Linked DNA regions of Homo sapiens. The protein of the gene in region 1 purifies or fractionates together with the protein of each later gene. This does not show direct contact. Each region holds a gene or a part of one and is shown in the gene's direction. Other genes may lie near its edges. The genes, in order: PCDHGA5, MELK, TMEM39A and TMEM132A.

What was found.
Region 2: the proteins of PCDHGA5 (region 1) and MELK purify together in Homo sapiens (co-immunoprecipitation; 3 studies listed by BioGRID and IntAct, with this or other methods). This does not show direct contact.
Region 3: the proteins of PCDHGA5 (region 1) and TMEM39A purify together in Homo sapiens (affinity purification with mass spectrometry; 2 studies listed by BioGRID and IntAct, with this or other methods). This does not show direct contact.
Region 4: the proteins of PCDHGA5 (region 1) and TMEM132A purify together in Homo sapiens (affinity purification with mass spectrometry; 2 studies listed by BioGRID and IntAct, with this or other methods). This does not show direct contact.

What each region holds. Positions count from the first base shown.
Region 1 is NC_000005.10:141,500,155-141,507,199, forward strand, and holds part of PCDHGA5 (protocadherin gamma-A5 isoform 1 precursor), read left to right. Parts: intron 1-5,238; coding exon 5,239-5,327; intron 5,328-7,045. Other genes in the region: PCDHGA1 (protocadherin gamma-A1 isoform 1 precursor), read left to right, coding at 5,239-5,327; PCDHGA2 (protocadherin gamma-A2 isoform 1 precursor), read left to right, coding at 5,239-5,327; PCDHGA3 (protocadherin gamma-A3 isoform 1 precursor), read left to right, coding at 5,239-5,327; PCDHGB1 (protocadherin gamma-B1 isoform 1 precursor), read left to right, coding at 5,239-5,327; PCDHGA4 (protocadherin gamma-A4 isoform 1 precursor), read left to right, coding at 5,239-5,327; PCDHGB2 (protocadherin gamma-B2 isoform 1 precursor), read left to right, coding at 5,239-5,327; PCDHGB3 (protocadherin gamma-B3 isoform 1 precursor), read left to right, coding at 5,239-5,327; PCDHGA6 (protocadherin gamma-A6 isoform 1 precursor), read left to right, coding at 5,239-5,327; PCDHGA7 (protocadherin gamma-A7 isoform 1 precursor), read left to right, coding at 5,239-5,327; PCDHGB4 (protocadherin gamma-B4 isoform 1 precursor), read left to right, coding at 5,239-5,327; and 11 more. UniProt on the Homo sapiens protein: Potential calcium-dependent cell-adhesion protein. May be involved in the establishment and maintenance of specific neuronal connections in the brain.
Region 2 is NC_000009.12:36,659,873-36,666,917, forward strand, and holds part of MELK (maternal embryonic leucine zipper kinase), read left to right. Parts: intron 1-5,477; coding exon 5,478-5,709; intron 5,710-7,045. UniProt on the Homo sapiens protein: Serine/threonine-protein kinase involved in various processes such as cell cycle regulation, self-renewal of stem cells, apoptosis and splicing regulation. Has a broad substrate specificity; phosphorylates BCL2L14, CDC25B, MAP3K5/ASK1 and ZNF622.
Region 3 is NC_000003.12:119,428,419-119,432,630, reverse strand, and holds the end of TMEM39A (transmembrane protein 39A), read left to right. Parts: intron 1-416; coding exon 417-650; 3' UTR 651-3,682; downstream 3,683-4,212. UniProt on the Homo sapiens protein: Regulates autophagy by controlling the spatial distribution and levels of the intracellular phosphatidylinositol 4-phosphate (PtdIns(4)P) pools.
Region 4 is NC_000011.10:60,934,446-60,937,690, forward strand, and holds the end of TMEM132A (transmembrane protein 132A isoform b precursor), read left to right. Parts: intron 1-42; coding exon 43-319; intron 320-806; coding exon 807-998; intron 999-1,418; coding exon 1,419-2,462; 3' UTR 2,463-2,714; downstream 2,715-3,245. Other genes in the region: SLC15A3 (solute carrier family 15 member 3), read right to left, coding at 2,774-2,928. UniProt on the Homo sapiens protein: May play a role in embryonic and postnatal development of the brain. Increased resistance to cell death induced by serum starvation in cultured cells. Regulates cAMP-induced GFAP gene expression via STAT3 phosphorylation.

The sequences.
Region 1 (7,045 bases):
CAAAGAACATGCATGAGCTTCATTTTTATTTTTATTTATTTATTTATTTATTTATTTATTTATTTATTTATTGATACGTAGCCTTGCTCTGTCACCCAGGCTGGACTGCAGTGGCGCAATCTCGGCTCACTGCAAGCTCCGCCTCCCAGGTTCACGCCATGCTCCTGCCTCAGCCTCCAGAATAGCTGGGACTACAGGCGCCCACTACCACGCCCGGCTAATTATTTTGTATTTTTAGTAGAGACGGGGTTTCACCGTGTTAGCCAGGATGGTCTCGATCTCCTGACCTCGTGATCCGCCCGCCTCGGCCTCCCAAAGTGCTGGGATTACAGGCGTGAGCCACCGCGCCTGGCCGAGCTTCATTTTAAAAAAATCTCATTCACCTAAATAAGTTGTTCACAAACTTGTCACACTTTCATGTGACACTTTATTCACATATTAAGAACTGTTATTCCCAGTCATACGGTACATTTCCTACTAGTTTTTTAAAAATAGCAACTGAGGCCATACTGTCCAACAGAATTATAGCTTTTTTCTTCTTTGCAGTGTATCATGAGAATTTCCCCATGTCTTTCAAAATTCTTCCCAAGTCATTTGCAGAGTAACTCCTCTTATGAATATACATATTATTTTACAGAATAAGTCCTCATATGAATATACATATTATTTTTCTAATGCTAATGGGCTTTTGCTACATTAGAAAACATACACATTCATTTACAATTTTTTTTTTTTGAGACAGTCTCGCTCTGTCTCCAGGCTGGGGTGCAGTGGCGCCATCTCGGCTCACTGCAAGCTCCACCTCCTGGGTTCAAGCAATTCTCCTGCCTCAGCCTCCTGAGTAGCTGGGACTACAGGCACGCGCCACCACGCCCAGCTAATTTTTGTATTTTTAGTAGAGACGGGGTTTCACCATGTTGACCAGGATGGTCTCAATCTCTTGACCTCGTGATCCGCCTGCCTCAGCCTCCCTAAGTGCTGGGATTACAGGTGGGAGCCACCATCCCCAGCCTCATTTACATTTTAACACAATTAAATTCAGGGTGTTGTCAGGGTGACTTCCTAGATTTCTCAGTTTTTTGAGCATGATGTAGGGAGTATTTTATTATAGTCCAGTCTATGGGATATTCCCTTATACACACACACACACACACACACACACACACACACACACACACACCCCAAACTCAATAGGGCAAGAACCATATTCATCATCTCTTAAATCCTAGGTCCTGTCACAGGCCACTGCTTGGAAAATAGTTGACTAAATGTAGTCCATTTCTTCCATTTTTACTTTTCACTATTCCCCAAATCCTGGAAGAGTCCCTCATATCTGCTGCTGGGGCTCCAAGGCCTCCAAGCTGAAGCCCAGTACGTTGTTGTGCATAAGATCATAGGCCCTGGAATCATATTAGGCTGGCTTTCAGGTTGCAACTCTACCAGTTCCAGCTGTGTGACTCTGGTATAGTCTCTCAACCTCTCTGAGCCCTGTTTTCATCTGTTGGAAAATATAGATAATCACAACACTTATCTGCAGGGTGATTCCGAGGATAAAAAAGACAAATATATTACCCAGTCAGCTTAGAATAGGAAGCTCTCAGTAAATGGTTAAAAAAGAGGTCTCTCTCCCTCTGCTCATCTCTTACCCAGCTTCACATAATTGGCAGCCCACCCACCTGTTTGGCCCTCAACCTTCAACCATTTCCCAGGACGCCTCCTTACACTCCTGATCATCATGGTTCCAACCCCACTGTTCCACTCAGCTTTGTTCCCTCAACACCACTGCTCCCTGTGACAGGTCATCCTCCTAACCTCTGGCATCTGGTCCCGTTGTCTCCCTGACAACCCGCATGCTCTCCTCCCTGCAACCCCCGCCGCTTGCCTGCTCTCCCTACTTTATTCCCATTAGCCCCCTTCACCTGGGGCTGAGAACACCTGGCCTTGACCCTGCACCCTCAGCCAGGCCCACAGAGCTCAGTCGGGCCGGAAGTAAGGACCCCAGATATTCAGTTGAGGAATTTAACATTAATACAATAATATAGAATCCACCAGCAGATTTTCATAAATGTTCTGTGTGTTCTTTTATCCTTTTTTTTAATCCAGGATTTTATCAAGGAGCATAGATTGCATTTGGTTGTCACGTCTTTCCTCTCCTTTAATCTGGAGCCAGCTCCCAGTCTTTTTATTTTTTTAATGACATGGATATTTTTAAAGAGTCCAGGCCAGTTGTACTTTAAAATGTCCCCGAACCTGGATTTGCTGGCTATTCTCTGATGGTTAGATTCAGATTACACACCTTGGTAGGAATACTTCCCGCAGCATCACACTGGGACTCATCTAACGTCGGCCTGTCCCACTATCAGTGATGCCGAGTTTGTTCGTGTGGTAAAAACAGTGTCCCAGATCTCTCCATTATAAAAATATATTTTTATAAAGATATTTTAAAATATTTGTGAAAATATAAGTAATCTGTGGATGATACTTTGAGATAGGCAGCAACCCTTCATGCAATTTTAGTATTCCCTGATGATCCTTGCCTGTATCTGTTTTTACATCAGTGATTACAAAGCGGTGATGTTCTGTCATTCCTTCTACATGTATTTGCTGGTATTCTTCTGAAAATTACCTGGATGATTTCTTCAGATTTAAATTCACTGTCTTTTCCTTGGGGAAGCCTGGACTGGCTGAGCTGCCTAACCCTGACTCTCTGTCTTTTTTTTTTTTTTGACAGGGAGTCTAGCTCTGTTGCCAGGCTGGAGTGCAGTGGCAACCTTCACCTCCTGGGTTCAAGCGATTCTCCTGCCTCAGCCTCCCAAGTAGCTGGGATTACAGGCGTGTGCCACCATGCCCGGTTAATTTTTTTTTTTTAATATCTATTTTAGTTGAGACAGGGTTTCACCATGTTGGTCAGAATGGTCTCGATCTCCTGACCTCGTGGTCTGCCCGCCCCTGCCTCTCTTCATACCCTCTGGTAGCCCCTGACACAGCCCATGGCAAGTATCACAATTGCAATTACTCTATTGTGTAATTATTTAAAATCAGCCTCTCAGTGCCCACCATGAGCACCGTAAAGATGGACAGTTTCTATCATACTCACAGCCACAACCCCAGCACCTGGCTCTGTGTCTGGTACATAGAAATTGCTCAAGAAAGAATTGTTGGAGGGGCGCGGTGGCTCACGCCTGTAATTCCAGCACTTTGGGAAGCGGAGGCAGGTGGATCATGAGGTCAGGAGTTCGAAACCAACCTGGCCAATATGGTGAAACCCCATCTCTACTAAAAATACAAAAATTCGCTGGGCATGGTGGCATGTGTGCACTTGTCGTCCCAGCTGCTCAAGAGGCTGAGGCAGGAGAATCACTTGAACCTGGGAGGCAGAGGTTGCAGTGAGCCGAGATCGCGCCACTGTACTCCAGCCTGGGTGACAGAGCGAGACTCCAGCTCAAAAAAAAAAAAAAAAGAAAAAAGAAAAGAAATAATTATTGAATCAATGGAAACAGAATTACAACTCTTCCCACTTTTGGGAAGGAGAATTGAGATTCCTGCTTTCCCCTTCAACCCTAGCTTTATGTTTGTTGTGATGGTATAGAGGTCACACATGGCAGCCTTGTGTCTGTTCTTAGGCTGAGTTCATCTACTTAGGGACGGGGAATCCCAGATTGGGCAAAACCAAAAGCAGGGACAGACCTTGGAAAAATTGTAAAGCAGTTCTTGGTTGTGCTCACCCACCATGACAAAATATGCACACACACAACGCAACACACACACAGACATTTTCATGCCTTCAAGGCCTACCCTACAGCCTTTCCCATGGTGCCAAACCCTTCTTCTTACCTTACAGTCACTTAACTGTCTCTGCTGGTCTCTTCCCACTCATTTAGGCAACAAATATTTATTGAAAAACTTCTCTGAGCCAGATGGTGCCAAACAGTTACCTAAAGGGCAGACTGTGTGTGTGCCAGGGCTGTTTCCCGCCAACACTCCCCTGCAAATTGAAATAATTTCATCCTTGGAAATTCAAAAAAATCATGAAAATTGTCACTGTGGGAAAATTCCAAGTAGAGCTGAACCTTCTAAGAAGCAGAGAGTTCTTCTTATGGTTTAGTATTTTTTTAAATTATGAATCATTTCATGTTTTTTCAACACTCGGAGTTTCTAAAAGTCTCACTTAGGTCCAAGTGCTAGGCTTTGTGCTAGGTGCTTCAGTAGGAAGCAGGTGGAGTCGCTGCCTCACAGAAGCCAGTGTGGTGGAGGAACAGACAGGCACTACAACAGCTGCAGTGTGACTAGTGCCATGTGGGGCAGCCGCTGGGATGGGAGTACAGTGGAGGCACCTGCCCAGTCTGAGTGGATCTCCTCTGATATATTTTATTCGTGTCATCATGGCAAATGTTGGGGGACTGGCATTCTAGGGAACACCATCTGCCCAGGATTCACAGCAAGAGGGAACTTGAGGGATAGGAAAGTGCACCTTGGAAAAGGTTTGATGATAGAGTGTTTGAGGGCGGGGGGTGGGGGTTCTTGTAAAATAGGAGGGGCAGGTTCTTCTATGGCCGTGGATTTTACTCTGAGGGCTTAGGAAGCCATTGAATTTTAGAAATTTCTTCTCCCTGCTCCAGGGTCTCTTGGGGCCTCCTACATCTCCCCCTAGGTACCTCCTAGGTCCCCACTTTTTCTCTAGCTCTGGAACATTCTCTTCCATTTCCCACCTTCACAGTCCTCTGGAGAAGGTCTGATCTCCCTCACTATGACAGGAAGCCAGGCTCTCTCATGGTGGGTGGGGGAATGCACTATGTTCAATGCATTGGACCAGCCTGGCCAACATGGTGAAACCCCGTCTGTACTAAAAATACAAAAATTAGCCTGGCACAGTGGCAGGTGCCTGTCATCCCAGCTACTTGGGAGACTGAGGCAGGAGAATCGCTTGAACCCAGGAGGTGGATGTTGCAATGAGCCAAGATCGCGCCACTGCACTCCAGCCTGGATGACAGAGTAAGACCCTGTCTAAAACAAAAAGAAAAAAGCATCGGAGGCAGCAAAGAGCTGGTTTGAGGGACTGACTTGTGGGATTCTGGCTTCTGAAGGATTGTAGAAGTGCCTCCTACCTTGCTGAGAGAAACAGGTCTTGGGCATGGGGTAGGGTTAGGGTACTAGGTTTGGGAGCCCTGGGAGAGGACAGGAGGGGCATGAGCTGTGCCGGCCTGGGAGTCTGTGCTCACCATCCTACTCTCTCCCCAGCTCCCAAAATGGCGATGACACCGGCACCTGGCCCAACAACCAGTTTGACACAGAGATGCTGCAAGCCATGATCTTGGCGTCCGCCAGTGGTAAGTGGTGTCAGTGTGTGTATGGAAGAGTGGGAGACCTGGGGTTCTGGGGTGCATCTCACAGCCACCATGCCCACGGACTGGATGTCAAACCTGTGTAGTTTCTCCAGATCTTTCGGCAGGTCTGAAAGGACCCACAATTCCAAACATAAAGCCTGGAATTGTGGCTAAGGAACAGCAGAGGGGTTGGGGGTCCTGGGATGCCTGGAGGAGAGCGAACAAGGAAAAGACTCATGGAGGGAATAGTGGTTACAAGTCTAGCTCTGGAATGGGACAGTGTAGCTCAGGTCCTAGCTCTGCTACTATCCTTGGGACTTGGATCGACTTGCTCAATCTCTCTAAACCTCAGTTTCCTCAGCCTAGAAAGTGGGGACAGGGACCCCAAAGGGTTGTTGTAGAGATTAAATGAGATGATACCACAAAGCATAGAGTTCTGGGCCTGGCGCTTGGAAGCCCTCAAGCAATGAAAGTGGGTGTAGAAATCCCCAGCCGAGAGAACACCTCCTCTTTATGCGAGGCTCCTCTTTTGCTGCCCCTAACTCCAGAGTAGGATTCTGGTTTTCCCATAAGGTTGACTAAGGGCTTCCTTTGTAATAGAGATTCGGCTAGTGGTGGTTGTCCCTGAAGAGTCACTAGGGCCCAGAGCAGGAGAAGAAGAATATCATTTGTCCTTAAGAGCACAGCCTAAGCTGGGCGTGGTGGCTCACGCCTGTAATCCCAGCACTTTGGGAAGCTGAGGCAGGAGGATCATGAGGTCAGGAGTTCGAAACCGGCCTGGCCAACATAGTGAAACCCTGTCTCTACTAAAAATACAAAAATTAGCTGGGCATGGTGGTGCGTGCCTGTAGTCCCAGCTACTTGGGAGGCTGAGGCAGGAGAATCGCTTGAACCTGGGAGGTGGCTGTGGTGAGCAGAAAATCGCACCACTGCACTCCAGCCTGGGCAACAGTCTCGCTCTGTCTCAAAAAAAAAAAAAAAAAAAAAGAGCACAGGCTTTAGAGGCAGGCCAATCTGGATTCAAATCCTGGCACCTGGCACCACCACTTAGCAATGAGTCCTTAGGTAAGTTATTAAACCCCCTCGGTTTCACTTACTATTAATGGGCACAGTATTAACGGATCTCATTGTGGTGTTACCAGGGCCAAATGCAAGTCCCTCAGCACAGGATTGGCAGAGAGTAAGGGCACAATATATTATTATCTTTGCTGACCCAAACCCGTTTTTTACTGGGTAGAAAGCAGAATTAGAATAATGCCTATTAATAAAGACTAGCTTCTGGAGCAGCAAATCCTGGGCTTATAAGGAGGCTGGCAGAGGATCAAGGCATTGCCCTATATCATGAACTGATAGCCCTGCCCTCCAGCATGTCTGGAGGACTGGTGGGTAGAGAACCAGGTGAAATCACAAGAAGCACTGTCATCACACCTGGGCACATACTAAACAAACTTTAGGGGCCTCCTGTCAATGAATCCTCTCAATAGCTCTGCAAGGCAGGTCTGATTTCTCACACTCGACAGATGAGAGAACCGAGAAGGCACTTGCCCCAGGGTCCTCAGTTTTGAGCTGCCAAGCTGAGGTTCTAACCTGGCTCAACTCCTAAGTTTATGCTCTTTCTACTATAGGGACCATGGCTGCCTTTGGATCCAGCCTCGGCTTCTCTATTACCTGAGCAGGATGAGAGGCTGTCCTCTTCCTCGAGCTCTGCTTTATTCTTCCAG
Region 2 (7,045 bases), on another chromosome or scaffold:
CACTGCGATTTTCGCCTCCTGGGTTCAAGCAATTCTCCTGCCTCAGCCTCCCATGGAGCTGGGATTACAGGCATGCGCCACCACACCTGGCTAATTTTGTATTTTTAGTAGAGACGAGGTTTCACCATGTTGGTCAGGCTGGTCTCGAACTGCTGACCTCAAGTGATCCACCTGCCTCAGCCTCCCAAAGTGCTGGGATTACAGGCGTGAGCCACCATGCCCAGCCCCTTCTAAAGTCTTTCCTGAGCAAATGCACAGCCCTGGGTATGAGCACATCCTATACATGTACATTGGGCTTGTAGATACCCTGGTATATTTTGGAGCTTTTCCAATTCACTGTGGACATCTTATTCTCTAACTTTTTTTTCAGCATTTTTGTTAGTTTATTGTGGTCACCAGCTATTACTTACTGCTTCGGCAGCCACAATGTGCAACAATTGCCTGTAAATTTTTTTTTGTTTTTGAGATAGGATCTCATTCCGTCAACCAGGCTGGAGTCCAGTGGTGTGATCATGGCTCACTGCAGCCTCGACCTCCTGGGCTTAAGCAATTTTCTTGCCTCAGCCTCCCGAGTATCGGGGACTATAGGCATGCACCACCATGCCCAGCTAATTTTTACAAAATTATTTTGTAGAGACAGGGTCTCAATATTTTGCCCAGGCTGGTCTCAAACTCCTGGACTCAAGAGATCCACCCGCGTTGGCCTCCCAAAGTGCTGGGATTACAGGCGTGAGCCACTGCGCCTGGCACCTCTAAATCTTTTTAACAGATGCTGCTGGGGAAAAGGCTGTTCATACTGGGCAGGCTCTGAGTAAGGTCAAATAAAGACAGCTTTCAGGCTGGGTGCAGTGGCTCACGCCTGTAATCCCAGCACTTTGGGGGGCTGAGGCGGGTGGATCACCTGAGGTCGGGAGTTCAAGACCTACCTGACCAACATGGAGAAACCCCGTCTCTACTAAAAATACAAAATTAGCTGCCTGTGGTGGCACATGCCTGTAATCCCAGCTACTCGGAAGGCTGAGGCAGGAGAATTGCTTGAACCCGGGAGGTGGAGTTTGCAGTGAGCTGAGTTCACGCCATTACACTCCAGCCTGGGCAACAAGAGCAAAACTCCGTCTCAAATAAAAAACAAACAAAGAATAAAAAAAGACAGCTTTCATAGTAGGGTCTTCTAGGGAACTACTGGCCAGGCTAAATAATGACAGTTTTCTGAGCATGAAGCTTTGAAGGAGCTCCAACCTGTTCTGCCCCCTCCAGCGGCTCCTAGGTTGCTGGTCTTCATCGTGATTGTGGGCTGTGGGTTTCTAAGACTATCATAGAGCTGGAGAGAGAAGAATGGGGATAGGTAGGGCAAATTCAAACACCTCAAACTCACTGTTTCTACTTAGCTGTTTTCTATGAATAAATGCTGCGATCTTTGGCTAATACACAGAGTTCTGAAACAAAAGAGGTATACTTTGTTTATGGATAGGGAGATTTGAAGGTATAGATTTCAGTTTTTCCCAAAATGAATTTTAAATTTAATGTAATCTCAACTTTTCAGTGGATGTAAAATAAGTCAAAATGATTCTAAAATGTATGTGGAAATACAAAGGGGCAAGAATAACTAAATCATTCCTAAAGAATAAGAAGATGGGAGGAAACTGGTCAACCTGATAAAAGAACTATTATAAAATTAAAGAAAGTAAGATTTCCTTAATAAATAAAACAATGAAACAAATAAAACAATGAAACCTTTCATACCTTATATTTAGGTATGTCTCTTTAAAAATAACATAGCTAGGCCGGGCGCGGTGGCTCACGCCTGTAATCCCAGCACTTTGGGAGGCCAAGGTGGGTGGATCATGAGGTCAGGAGATTGAGACCATCCTGGCTAACACAATGAAACTCCATCTCTACTAAAAAATACAAAAAATTAGCTGGGCATGGTGGCGGGCACCTCTAGTCCCAGTTACTTGGGAGGCTGAGGCAGGAGAATGGCATGAACCCGGGAGGCGGAGCTTGCAGTGAGCCGAGATTGCACCACTGCACTCCAGCCTAGGTGACAGAGCGAGACTCCGTCTCAAAAAAAAAAAAAAAAAAAACAAAACAAACAAAGAAAAAAACATAGCTAGATTTGGTATGCAAACTGAAAATCTTGTCTTTTGAATTGAGCGCTTACCCAACTTATTTTTATTATGGATTTAGTTATTATATATCTTTCTTTTTTTATGTTTCCTATGTGTCTTTTTCTGTATTTCCCCCTTATTTCTTGATTTTTTATGTTAATTTCCCCCCACATTTTATTGGTTTCTATTTGATTTCTATTCTTTTAATATTTACTCTAAATTTTTAACATTTAATTTAACGAAATATAAAGTGAATCTGTATCTTTTTTTTTTTTTTTTTAAGATGGAATCTTGCTCTGTTGCCCAGGCTTGAGTGCAATGGCGTGATCTCAGGCTCACTGCAACCTCTTCCTCCTGGGTTCAAGTGATTCTCCTGCCTCAGCCTCCCAAGTAGCCGGGTTTACAGGCACCCGCCACCATGTCTGGCTAATTTTTGTATTTTTAGTAGAGACAGGGTTTCACCATGTTGGCCAGGCTGGTCTCGAACTCCTGACCTCAGGTGATCCACCTGCCTCGGCCTCCCAAAGTGCTAGAATTACAGGCGTGAGCCCCTGCACCCTGCTGTGAATCTGTATGTTTAATTTCCTTCTAAACAATATGAAGGCCTTAGAACACTTAATCTCTGATTACCCCTCCTGGATTCCATGCTATTGATGTGTCCAGTGTATTAGCTCTTGAATGTTTTTAACTTTTTATTTTGAAATATTTATGGATTCACAGGATGTTATTGAAGATATTATTCCACTTTCTTCTTGCTTCTATTGTTGCTATTGAAAAACCAACCTCAGTCTAGTGCCTTTTTAGTCTGTCTTTTCTCTCTGGCTCCTTTTAGGACCTTCTCTTTGCTTTTGGTGTTCTGCAGTTTCACTGTTAGGGCTACTGCGTTGCACACCTCCAGGGAACACACCATCTGTGTGGTGTCTCTGTGGATAGTGTCCTCTGGAGTTGTATAATCTGGTAAATAGAGATGTGGATTTCTTTTATGTATCCAGTTCATGATTCATCATGCTTTCTATGTATGGGGATTTGTATTTTTAATCAATTTTTGAAAATTTCTTGAATAATATACTGCTTTTTCTTTTTCTCCTTTTCCTTGTTTCTTTTTTTTTTTCTTTTTGAGACAGAGTTTCTCTCTTCTTGCCCAGGCTGGAGTGCAATGGCACGATCTCAGCTTACTGCAACCTCTGCTTCCCAGGTTCAAGCGATTTTCCTACCTCAGCCTCCCGAGTAGCTGGGATTACAGGTGCCTGTCCCCATGCCCAGCTAATTTTTGTATTATTAGTAGAGACAGAGTTTCACCATGTTGGCCAGGCTGGTCTTGTACTCCTGACCTCAGGTGATCACATGACTTGGCCTCCCAAAGTGCTGGGATTACAGGTGTGAGCCAGCGCACCCAGCCTGCTTTTCTTTAAAACAATATTTATATAAATTTATAGAGTACAAGTACAATTTTCTTAGATGCATAGTGGTCAAGTGAGAGGTTTTAAGGTGTCAGCTGAATAATGTACATCGCACCCCTTAAGTAATTTCTCATCACCAACCCCCTTCCATCTCCTCACCCTTCCAAGTCTACATTTTCTATCATTCCACTCTCTACATCCACGTGTACACCCTTTTTTAGCACCCACTTATGAGTGAGAACATGCAATATTTGTCATTCTGTGTCTGGCTTGTTTCACTTAAGGTAACCTCCACTTCCATCCACCTTGTTGCAAAAGATAGGATTTCATTCTTTTTTATGGTTGAATAGTATTCTATCTGTGTGTCTGTCTGTCTATCTATCTCACATTTCCTTTATGCAGTCATCTGTTGATGGACACTTGGGTTGATTTTGTATCTTTGCTATTGTGAATAAGTACTGAGATAAATATACAAGTGCAGGTATGTTTTTGATGTATTGATTTCTTTTCCTTTGGGAAAAGAAGTAGAGGGAATTGCTGCTTTTGCATTGTCCATACTATGTATATCTGGAACTTAGAATAGCCTTATGTTAGACATTTTATTTCATTTTCTGTTTCCTTCAACCATCTTTCACGTATCGTATGTCTTTTTCTGTCTTGGCTACATTCAGAGTTATTTCGGATTTATATTTCTATTAAAATATCTCTATTTCTTTTATTCTGTTATTTGACATGTGCATTGCACTTTTCATTTTTATCATGTTTTTATTTCTAGAAGTTTTTATTCTTTTTCAAATCTATTTGAACAGTTTTGGTAGTCTTTTGTTCTTTACTCATGTTTTTGTTTCACTATTTTAAACATGCAAACATACTTATTTATGTTCTGTATTTGATAATTTTAATATCTGAAATCTTTATGCTCATAGTGCTTGTGTCTTTTGGAATTTTTTATGTAGGTTTATTTTTCTTTGAACTCTATGGGAATTATCTGAGGCTTGGGTTAAGGGCTTGAGTTGGGTTGGAGTGAAGCTTTTCTTTCAGGTAGGAGTTGTGCGTGCTTCTACCAGGTTCCTGGGGCACAACTTAGCATAGGACTACTTTAAGTTAAATTTAGGCTTGAGGTTTCTGGGACCATGCAGGTTGTATTAATTTGGACCTTTATTTATCTGAAGACTGGCCTGTGTTTACTTACAAATTATTAAAAGAAACTTCATTTTTCTCCTCCCTCAGAACCAAGACCAAGACACCCTTTTTCTTGCCTATTCCCTTTGAAGAGCAGATTTATATTTAACTCAGCCTTTAATTTTAGCTATAGCCCTTCCTGGCTTTACATGGGAGCTTTGGTTCTAACTCACCACCTTGCAGAGGCCCAAGGCTTCTGTGGCTGTAGAAACACATGCTATAGGTTATCAGAGGCAGAAGATAGCTGCCCTTAGGGCAGCAGAGAGTTTCAGCCTTGGTTACTCCTTTGGATTCATTCTCATGTTTTTAGTTTGGCCTCTCAGGATTTTACTTACTCTCTTGCAAGCTCAACCATAAATTTAAAAGGATTAAAAAGTATTTTTTATCCAATATTTCTGTTAGAGTAGTTTAACATGTTTTTTCTGCCCTAATTGCTGACTAAACTTTTTTTTTGGTACATGTCAGAGGCAAGCCGTGACTATCTAGGTATGGAAAGCATTTCTTAGTGATTGATTTGTGGCCATTCACAATATTGCCTAGGATCTGAGTATGTGTATACACTCAGCCTGTATCATGTTGAAAATTACTGTCAATAGAACAGACTAAAGTGATCTACATGTATTAAAGAAAACTATATATTTTCAAATTTCCTAATGTCAATAATATCCTTTTGATAATTCATTTTAATAAAAATAGTACAAGGTAGTTTGCAAATGATCAAGGAATGTTGTAAAGAAATTGACTTTTCTTCTTCAGTGTGCTTTATCTAGTAACTTTTTTTTTCCAGTTTACCAAGTACTGGACAGAATCAAATGGGGTGGAATCTAAATCATTAACTCCAGCCTTATGCAGAACACCTGCAAATAAATTAAAGAACAAAGAAAATGTATATACTCCTAAGTCTGCTGTAAAGAATGAAGAGTACTTTATGTTTCCTGAGCCAAAGACTCCAGTTAATAAGAACCAGCATAAGAGAGAAATACTCACTACGCCAAATCGTTACACTACACCCTCAAAAGGTATTTGCTAAGTGAATTAAGCAGTAAGAAGTTTCATTTTTCTTACCATGTTAAGTAAACATATAGCAGGTCAGAAATGACTAGCATTGCTTTCAGGAATTTCTAGGAGAAGTGAAGCTGTTTTTTATCATGTCATTTGCATTAGTTAAAATGAAAGCATATTTGTCAATTTCAATTTATTCTCAAATGATACCAAGTTTTTCCTCTTTTTCACGTTTATAAAATTGAATCATAGCATCCTAGGATATCAAAGCTGAAAGGCAAGTTAGAGCTCATTTAATCCAACTCCCTTTTTCACAGCTAAGAAACCTGAGACTCAGAAGGAGTGAAGTGATTTGCCCAAGGTCATATACCCAGGTTTAGACCTTTCATGCCCATTTACCCCGACTTATGACTCAAGCTGACGCCTCCGCTGAGCCTTTACTTATCTGGATCTCCAGTTGTGGTGTCTGGTCCTGTTCTGCCCTATGGTATTACTGCCTGTCCTCAGCAGGCAGGGTGAATCCATGATGCCCTTCCAGATATCTGTCTTTGTCCAGTTATCACAACTTCCTCATTTCCCTTGGTTTCCTCTTCAATTTAGTCATGAGCAGTTATTTAAACCATTTCCTTTATGATACTTCACTGTTTTGGTTGCTGGCCTCATCTGGACACATTCTATTTGATCAGACTGCCTCTTAGAATACAGTGCCTAGAACTAAACTGAGTTTTCTAGACTAGGTCTCACTAGGGTAGAGTGGTAAGTGTCATGACAGTAGAGACTCTCTGCCTTGTTTATTGCAGCATGGCATGGTCTGTAGTAGGGGCCATACCTGTCTGGTACATAGTACACAGTACTAGACCTGATGCCTAGTACATAATAGGGGCCATATTTATGTAATGAATTAATAAATTAGAGCCCAAAGGAATTTTATTTACAGTGATCCTGTTTATGTCACTTTAAAAAATGTTACCTAAACTTTATTAGCCTTTTTCCCCCCACCAATTGTGACCTTCTCAAGTTTCAAGATTCTAACAAACCTAAACTCTGGAGCATTGCCATGTGAACTGCTGGGAAACCACATCCTGCCATTGTGCTTCTAGTGTACTAATGGAGCTCATAGCCAGTTTGAGGGGTTAACTTCTTGTCTATAAAGATATTACGGAAGACTTTGCCAGAATATTTGCTAGAAGTCCCATTTTTATGTTAACGTCATTTTCCATTTCATCAACTCAAATAACACTTTCCGCCAAAATGTGAGGCCAGTTTGGTGTCCTGATGATGTCTGTGTTTGTGTGTGTGTGTGTGTGTGTGTGTGTGTGTGTGTGTGTGTGTGTGTGTGTGTGATGGTGTGTG
Region 3 (4,212 bases), on another chromosome or scaffold:
TATGTAATATCCTTAATTTTTGCCTCTTGACTTACAAAGCCTAAAATATTTCCTGTTTGGTCCTTTATCCACCTCTGTCTTAGATGAATATACTTTTGTGTTTATCCTAAATAAAATATATACCTAAAATATAATCTAAGAAAAATGTTTATAAGTAGTTTTCTTTTGGGCATAATCTCTTTTCGTGTCTCAGGGGCATTGAAATAAAAATTATTTCATTATTTCTTGAGCAAAAAGGAAAAGGTTTCAATCTTTATAGCAAGAAATAGCCTGATTGATATTAAATAAACAGATCTATTTATTATTATATATGGGAACCTGTAAATGTTAAATTATTTTAGAAAAATCAATGCAAGAATAACTGTAGCCATTACTTTTCTATGAAATAATGTTTTACTTTTTTAACTTCCTTACAGTTCTTATTTCATCGACCATTAAGGCTGTTAAATCTGCTCATCCTTATTGAGGGCAGTGTCGTCTTCTATCAGCTCTATTCCTTGCTGCGGTCGGAGAAGTGGAACCACACACTTTCCATGGCTCTCATCCTCTTCTGCAACTACTATGTTTTATTTAAACTTCTCCGGGACAGAATAGTATTAGGCAGGGCATACTCCTACCCACTCAACAGTTATGAACTCAAGGCAAACTAAGCTGCCTCTCAACAATGAGGGAGAACTCAGATAAAAATATTTTCATACGTTCTATTTTTTTCTTGTGATTTTTATAAATATTTAAGATATTTTATATTTTGTATACTATTATGTTTTGAAAGTCGGGAAGAGTAAGGGATATTAAATGTATCCGTAAACAAGGTGATGTGATCTTTCATGTGTTAGTATATTCGAATAATATACATATGAGAGGTATGCCTGTCCAGTAAAGAGATTGATTTGTTTGTATGGCTCTGGAATAACTCATTCGTTTATGAACACATCTCATGTATTACTTGACACAGTACCTTTGGTATGTCTGCTTTTCTTTCAATCCTCATTATCTTTAGCCCTCAGCTGGCCAGTACTTATTGCTAAAGAAAGGGAGATCAATGGAGTTGCCTACCAGCACCCATTCTCTTTTAGTTCAGCTGGCTAATAGTATTGGAATACATTGGGAAAAGAGTGGGTTAAAGTCCTAGGTGGGGTTCTCTTTGTTGCCTACCAGGAGAAAGCAGTAGGCTTCCTTTCTAAGATACGGACTCAGCTGGTCTATTTTACCCTGTGACATTTAAATATACTTTTGAATAAGCTACTATCCTGAGGCTGAGGGTTTTGCTGCCACTTTTCCTGTGTTTCCACTTCTGCTTCCAAAGATTTTCCTCTTAGTTGTTTGAAATAATACTTTGCCAGACAGGAAGTCTTTAGACTGCCCACATTCATGAAGAAGATGATGTGTGGCTGGATCAGTAGGAGAAGCTGAGTGCAAATGCCATGTGGGCTAGAGTATGGGAAGGTTGAAAATTCCAAGTAACTGGGAGAGTGGGCAAGTCCTCAGCTGAACAATCTTGGATGTAGTCTAGCAGCAACCCACCTACAATGGCGTTATGTTTGGAGTTATGAGGGGAAGTGAAAGATAAGAATTACCTACAGCTTTGTACTCAGATAATTTATATCCAAAATTTGTGTTTTAAATTTCATACTCCAGAACTTTCATGTTTATGAGTATTAGCCTTTTAAGTTATGGGAGGTGATATACTTAGTCCATTGATGTTGTCACTTGTCATCTAAACTTATGAGACCTTGTCTTAGAGAATCTAAAATATATTGTCATATGTTTTCTGTGCTGAGTTTGGTTTGTTACACTGTGAAGCTTTTGGTGAAACAAAATAAGACTTATGAAGTAAAAAGACCAATCATGTCGTTGACAAGCTGGCTCTGAAAATAATTCTTGCAGAAGAGTTCCTGAAAGGCTTCACCAAGGGGAAGTATTGTGAGGAGTGTTTGTAAAACCAAGGTACCCAATATCAGTTTTATGTTTAAATCAATAATTGTTTCTTTAAATATTTTGATGTGTATACTTTTTTTTTAAGTTAACATTATTTGGCATTCAGTCTGAGTCTGTTCAACCATTCAACAAATATATATTAACCAGTAGGCACTATATTAGGCCCTGGGGATATAGCAGTGAATGAGAAATGCAAAGGTCCTACTTGCACAGAGCTTACAATATGCGTGGGGGTGGGGGAGTTAGGTGGTGCAGAAAATACAGCAAATAAATTTATGTGTAATATAACATTCCCTGGTAGTAGTGATAAGTGTAGCAAAGGGAAATCAGGACAAGGAAATAGTGGTAAGAATAGCACTGCTAGAAGGCATCTTTGAGGAGATGATTTTTAAGCAAAGAAAAAGCAAGACTGAATCATATAAATAGCTTTGGGGAGAATTCCATGTTACAGTAGCAGAAAGGGCAGTGCCCTGAGGTGGGGACAAGTTGGTATATTGGAAGAATAGCAAGAAAATATATTAGGTTAGTTGCTTTTTAAAGTAGTTCAGCCTAAATATAGTGGTTCTTGAGGTAGGGGTGGGAAGGGTAGGGAATCTGCCATCTTTCTATTCTTTCTGTAGGATCTTGAAAATATGCTTCTCTTGGCAGCAACATTTTCATGAGATTACTCAGCAGTTGAGAGCAAAATGGGTGGCATGGGCACAGAGATATCTCATCAAAATTGCCCCAACTTGGCTCCAGCTTGGGAAAGTAACCCAGAAAACCCTGATTAGAGATAACAGACCAGTCTTATGAACTAATATGATGCCCCTTCTGGCTTGATCTGTCTTGGTCCTATCCTAAGGGAATAGCACAGAACCAGATGCTGGCTTGGCTAAATAAGTAAGTGGATATAAGAAATAAATAAAAATTAATTTTGGCTAATGGAATTGCAAAGTTCCTCCTACCCTCACCTCCAGATATGGCAGCATACGGGGCATAAGACCGTTTAGTTCAACGTGTTCTACACATTCCAGCTGTTTTTTGTTTGTTTGTTTTGTTGTTTTGTTTTTGTAGGGGCCACGTTCATGGAAGAGAGAAAAATTACTAGTTACCCGGATATCCTATTATAGTTCATGTAACAGAAGGGACACTATATTTGCTCACTGATAGTAGAAAAATGTGTAATCATTAAAGAATGACCTTTTTTGTAATTCTTTGTTGGCAAGTTAAAATTGTTTGTGGAAAGCATGGTATAGCAAAAGTTCAGTTGGGTGAACTGGGATACTGGAAAAGGAAAGAAGATACTTGACTAGTCTGGGTGGTCTAAGGTGGGTAAATAAAGGAGTAGAGGAGGGTAGTTCACAGGAATGAGCATGACAGAAGTTTTCCTCAATATCCTGTTTACTCTGATTCCATGTTTATATTCCTAATCCTCCTTTCCTTCCTGTCCCTATCAGTCACCACCACTGCCACCTGTTGTGCCGTTTCTCTCTCTTTTTTTTAATTAATTTTTTTATTTCTATTAAGCTAGCCAGGCATCTCATTTCTATGTACTGGGCAATTATATGCCAAACACTGCTGGGTGCCGGAGATAGTGATGTTCGAGTTCATTAACTAATAGAAGACAGACAAGTAAACCAGTTGTCACACTAGGGTGTTCATTAACAGAAATATGTATGAGATACGTAATAGATATCAGATCTATTAACAATCTTGAGTGTGAAGCCCAATAAAGTGCTCTTTTCATAAGTACTTCAAATAAGCAGACAGATGTCTTGGAACTTTTGTAGACAGAAGACAGCTAATGAAAGATTATAAGCTAAGAATAACTTATGATCCACTGGTTTCTAGTTCCCAAAGTAATCTCTAGATCAGCAGCATCAGCATCACTTAACTGATCAGCTGACCCTTCTGGAATCATAGGATAGACTAAATAGTGAAGGTCTATCCCTTCCCAAGAACACCTGTAACGGCCAGAAGAGGGGGCTGTCTCCTCAAATGCACTGACAACAATACAAGAACATACAGATTATGAAGAATCAGGGAATCATGACACCTACAAAAGAAACTAATAAAGCTCCAATAATAGACCCCAAAGAAATGGAGATTTATGAAATAACTGACAAAGAATTCAGAATAATACCCATAAAGAAGTTCAGTGAACTATTAATATATACAGATAAAAAATTTAATGAAATTTGAAAACAGTACACTAAAAAGAAAGTTGACAAATAGAAACAATAAGAATGGGATAGAAATTCAAGAGACTGAAAAATTCAACAGAAAGCTTCA
Region 4 (3,245 bases), on another chromosome or scaffold:
CGCTCAGCGCTGACGGCCAGTCCCGGCCTCCCCGCCCTGCAGGCCTGCGGAACCCGCTGCAGAGGCGTCGGATGAGGCCGAGCGGCGCGCCCGTGGCTGCCACCTGCAGTACCAGCGGGCCGGTGTGCGCTTCCTCGCCCCCTTCGCGGCCCACCCGCTGGACGGCGGCCGCCGCCTCACGCACCTGCTTGGCCCCGACTGGCTGCTAGACGTGTCCCACCTCGTGGCGCCACACGCCCGCGTGCTGGACTCGCGTGTAGCCTCTCTGGAGGGTGGCCGTGTCGTGGTGGGCCGGGAGCCCGGTGTCACCTCCATTGAGGTAAGCAGCTGGGGACCAGGAGAGTAGACCCCCTGAGAAGGGTGGAGGGGCCCCCAAAATGTTCGTGGGTGGGAGTGAAGAGTGTGCCAGGAGCCCAGAGTGTGTGGGGGAGTTGTGCGGTCTAGGTCTGAGTGCAGTGGGATTGGGGATAGGCTCAGAATGGGGTGGCCGCATAAGGGGGGAAGCCCTCTAGCTATGAAGGGCTGAGGTGTGGGTAGTGTGGGGACCGGGTCTTGAGGGAAAAGGGAACTGCCCCCTAGGTGTGGGATTGGGGTCCAGGTATGCACCGGGGTGCAAAGAGTAGAGGGATAGTAGCCCATGAGCCTGCTGGGAGTACCCGGTTCCCTCTGGGTGGGGGCTGTCCGTGGCGAAGACCTCCCCCACCTCCGGAGGGCAGCCCGTGAGGGTGCTGGGAGCACCCGGTTCCCTCTGGGTGGGGGCTGTCTGTATGGAAGGCCCCCCACCTCCAGCTCCTTTCCACCCTCAGGTGCGTTCCCCACTGTCTGACTCCATCCTGGGGGAGCAGGCGCTGGCTGTGACGGACGACAAGGTCTCAGTGCTGGAGCTGAGGGTGCAGCCAGTGATGGGCATCTCGCTGACCTTGAGCCGGGGCACTGCCCACCCCGGGGAGGTCACAGCTACGTGCTGGGCACAGTCAGCCCTTCCCGCCCCAAAGCAGGTGACAGTTGGGGGGTCAGGGGGATGAGGTCAACATCTCCAGATGGGGGCTCATGGTAGAGGGGAATGGGAGGAAGGGACCCTGGTACCTCGACCCCTTAGGGTTTTCAGAGTGAGGACTGACTCTGTGAGGTAGTGAGCTCTCTGCAGCTGGAGGTGATCAAGCAGTGGCTGGAGTATGGCAGTGGGAGGTTGGTTAGATGGCTCTAACTGAGGACCCTCCCAATAACTCAGACCCTAGGGCTGAGTGGCAGACAGGTGATTGACACGCGTCCCCTCTCTCCCTGTGTTTTGTCTATCTGCCTGTGTCTCTGTTTTCTCTCTGGTCTCTCCTCCATGTGGCCTATCTCTGTGGGAGTGGTTTCTCTGTGCATGCGTGCGTGCCCTCGCATGTCTCTGCCTGTGTCTGTGTGCCCCACAGGAGGTGGCCCTCTCCCTATGGCTGTCCTTCTCTGATCACACTGTGGCCCCAGCTGAGCTCTACGACCGCCGTGACCTGGGACTGTCCGTCTCAGCCGAGGAGCCTGGTGCCATCCTGCCAGCTGAGGAGCAGGGTGCCCAGCTCGGGGTGGTGGTGAGTGGGGCAGGCGCCGAGGGGCTGCCGCTGCATGTGGCTCTGCACCCGCCCGAGCCCTGCCGCCGGGGCCGCCACCGTGTGCCTCTGGCCTCTGGCACCGCCTGGCTGGGGCTGCCCCCTGCCTCCACTCCAGCCCCTGCTCTCCCATCCAGCCCTGCTTGGAGCCCACCAGCCACAGAAGCCACCATGGGTGGTAAACGGCAGGTGGCAGGCAGTGTCGGGGGCAACACAGGTGTGAGGGGCAAGTTTGAGCGGGCAGAGGAGGAGGCCAGGAAGGAGGAGACCGAAGCCAGGGAGGAGGAGGAGGAAGAGGAGGAGGAGATGGTCCCTGCCCCTCAGCATGTCACTGAGCTAGAGCTGGGCATGTACGCCCTGCTGGGAGTCTTCTGCGTGGCCATCTTCATCTTCTTGGTCAATGGTGTGGTCTTCGTCCTGCGCTATCAGCGCAAAGAACCTCCCGACAGTGCCACTGACCCCACCTCCCCCCAGCCCCACAACTGGGTCTGGCTGGGCACTGACCAGGAGGAACTGAGCCGCCAGCTGGACCGGCAGTCCCCTGGCCCGCCCAAGGGGGAGGGGAGCTGCCCCTGTGAGAGTGGGGGAGGAGGGGAGGCCCCTACCCTGGCCCCTGGCCCTCCTGGGGGCACCACCAGCTCCTCAAGCACCCTGGCCCGAAAGGAGGCTGGGGGGCGGCGGAAGCGAGTAGAGTTTGTGACATTTGCGCCAGCCCCTCCAGCCCAGTCACCTGAGGAGCCTGTAGGGGCCCCTGCTGTGCAGTCCATCCTTGTGGCAGGCGAGGAGGACATCCGCTGGGTGTGTGAGGACATGGGGCTGAAGGACCCTGAGGAGCTTCGCAACTACATGGAGAGGATCCGGGGCAGCTCCTGACCCTCCACAGCCACCTGGTCAGCCACCAGCTGGGGCAACGAGGGTGGAGGTCCCACTGAGCCTCTCGCCTGCCCCCGCCACTCGTCTGGTGCTTGTTGATCCAAGTCCCCTGCCTGGTCCCCCACAAGGACTCCCATCCAGGCCCCCTCTGCCCTGCCCCTTGTCATGGACCATGGTCGTGAGGAAGGGCTCATGCCCCTTATTTATGGGAACCATTTCATTCTAACAGAATAAACCGAGAAGGAAACCAGAGCTGGGACTGCTGCCGTCTGTCCGGTAGAGTGAAGCAAGGGGGCTGGAATAGGGCCTGTTCAGCCCCTGTCCCTGCTGAAACGGCTGTGGGAGGCTGGGCCCTGGGACGCCCTCTCATAGCGTCCAGCGATCCAGACAAATAGGAGAGCCGTGACGGCCTGAATGCCAGCCAGCAGGAAGAAGTAGAGGTCCATCCGGCAATTGTTGATGTTCCCTGGGGAAAGGAGGGGTTAGATTTGGGTCAGGACAGGGATCCTCTGTCTTGCGCCCTGTGCCTGCCGTGTCCTAGCCCTGGGGCTGGCAACTGAGGCCATGTGGGCAGTGGTGGGATCTGAAGACACTGGACAGATACCCACTAATGTTTGACTTCCTGAAGATCTCCAGGGGTGTCTACAATTCCTCTTCAGCTATTCAGAAGGGGGCGTGAAATATAAACACCATGAGAAAGGTAACCCTTCAGCCAGAGATGGCAGAGTTCCAGAAGCAGAAAGGAGCCTTGGAGGTCCACTAAGTTCAACACTTGGGGAAAGA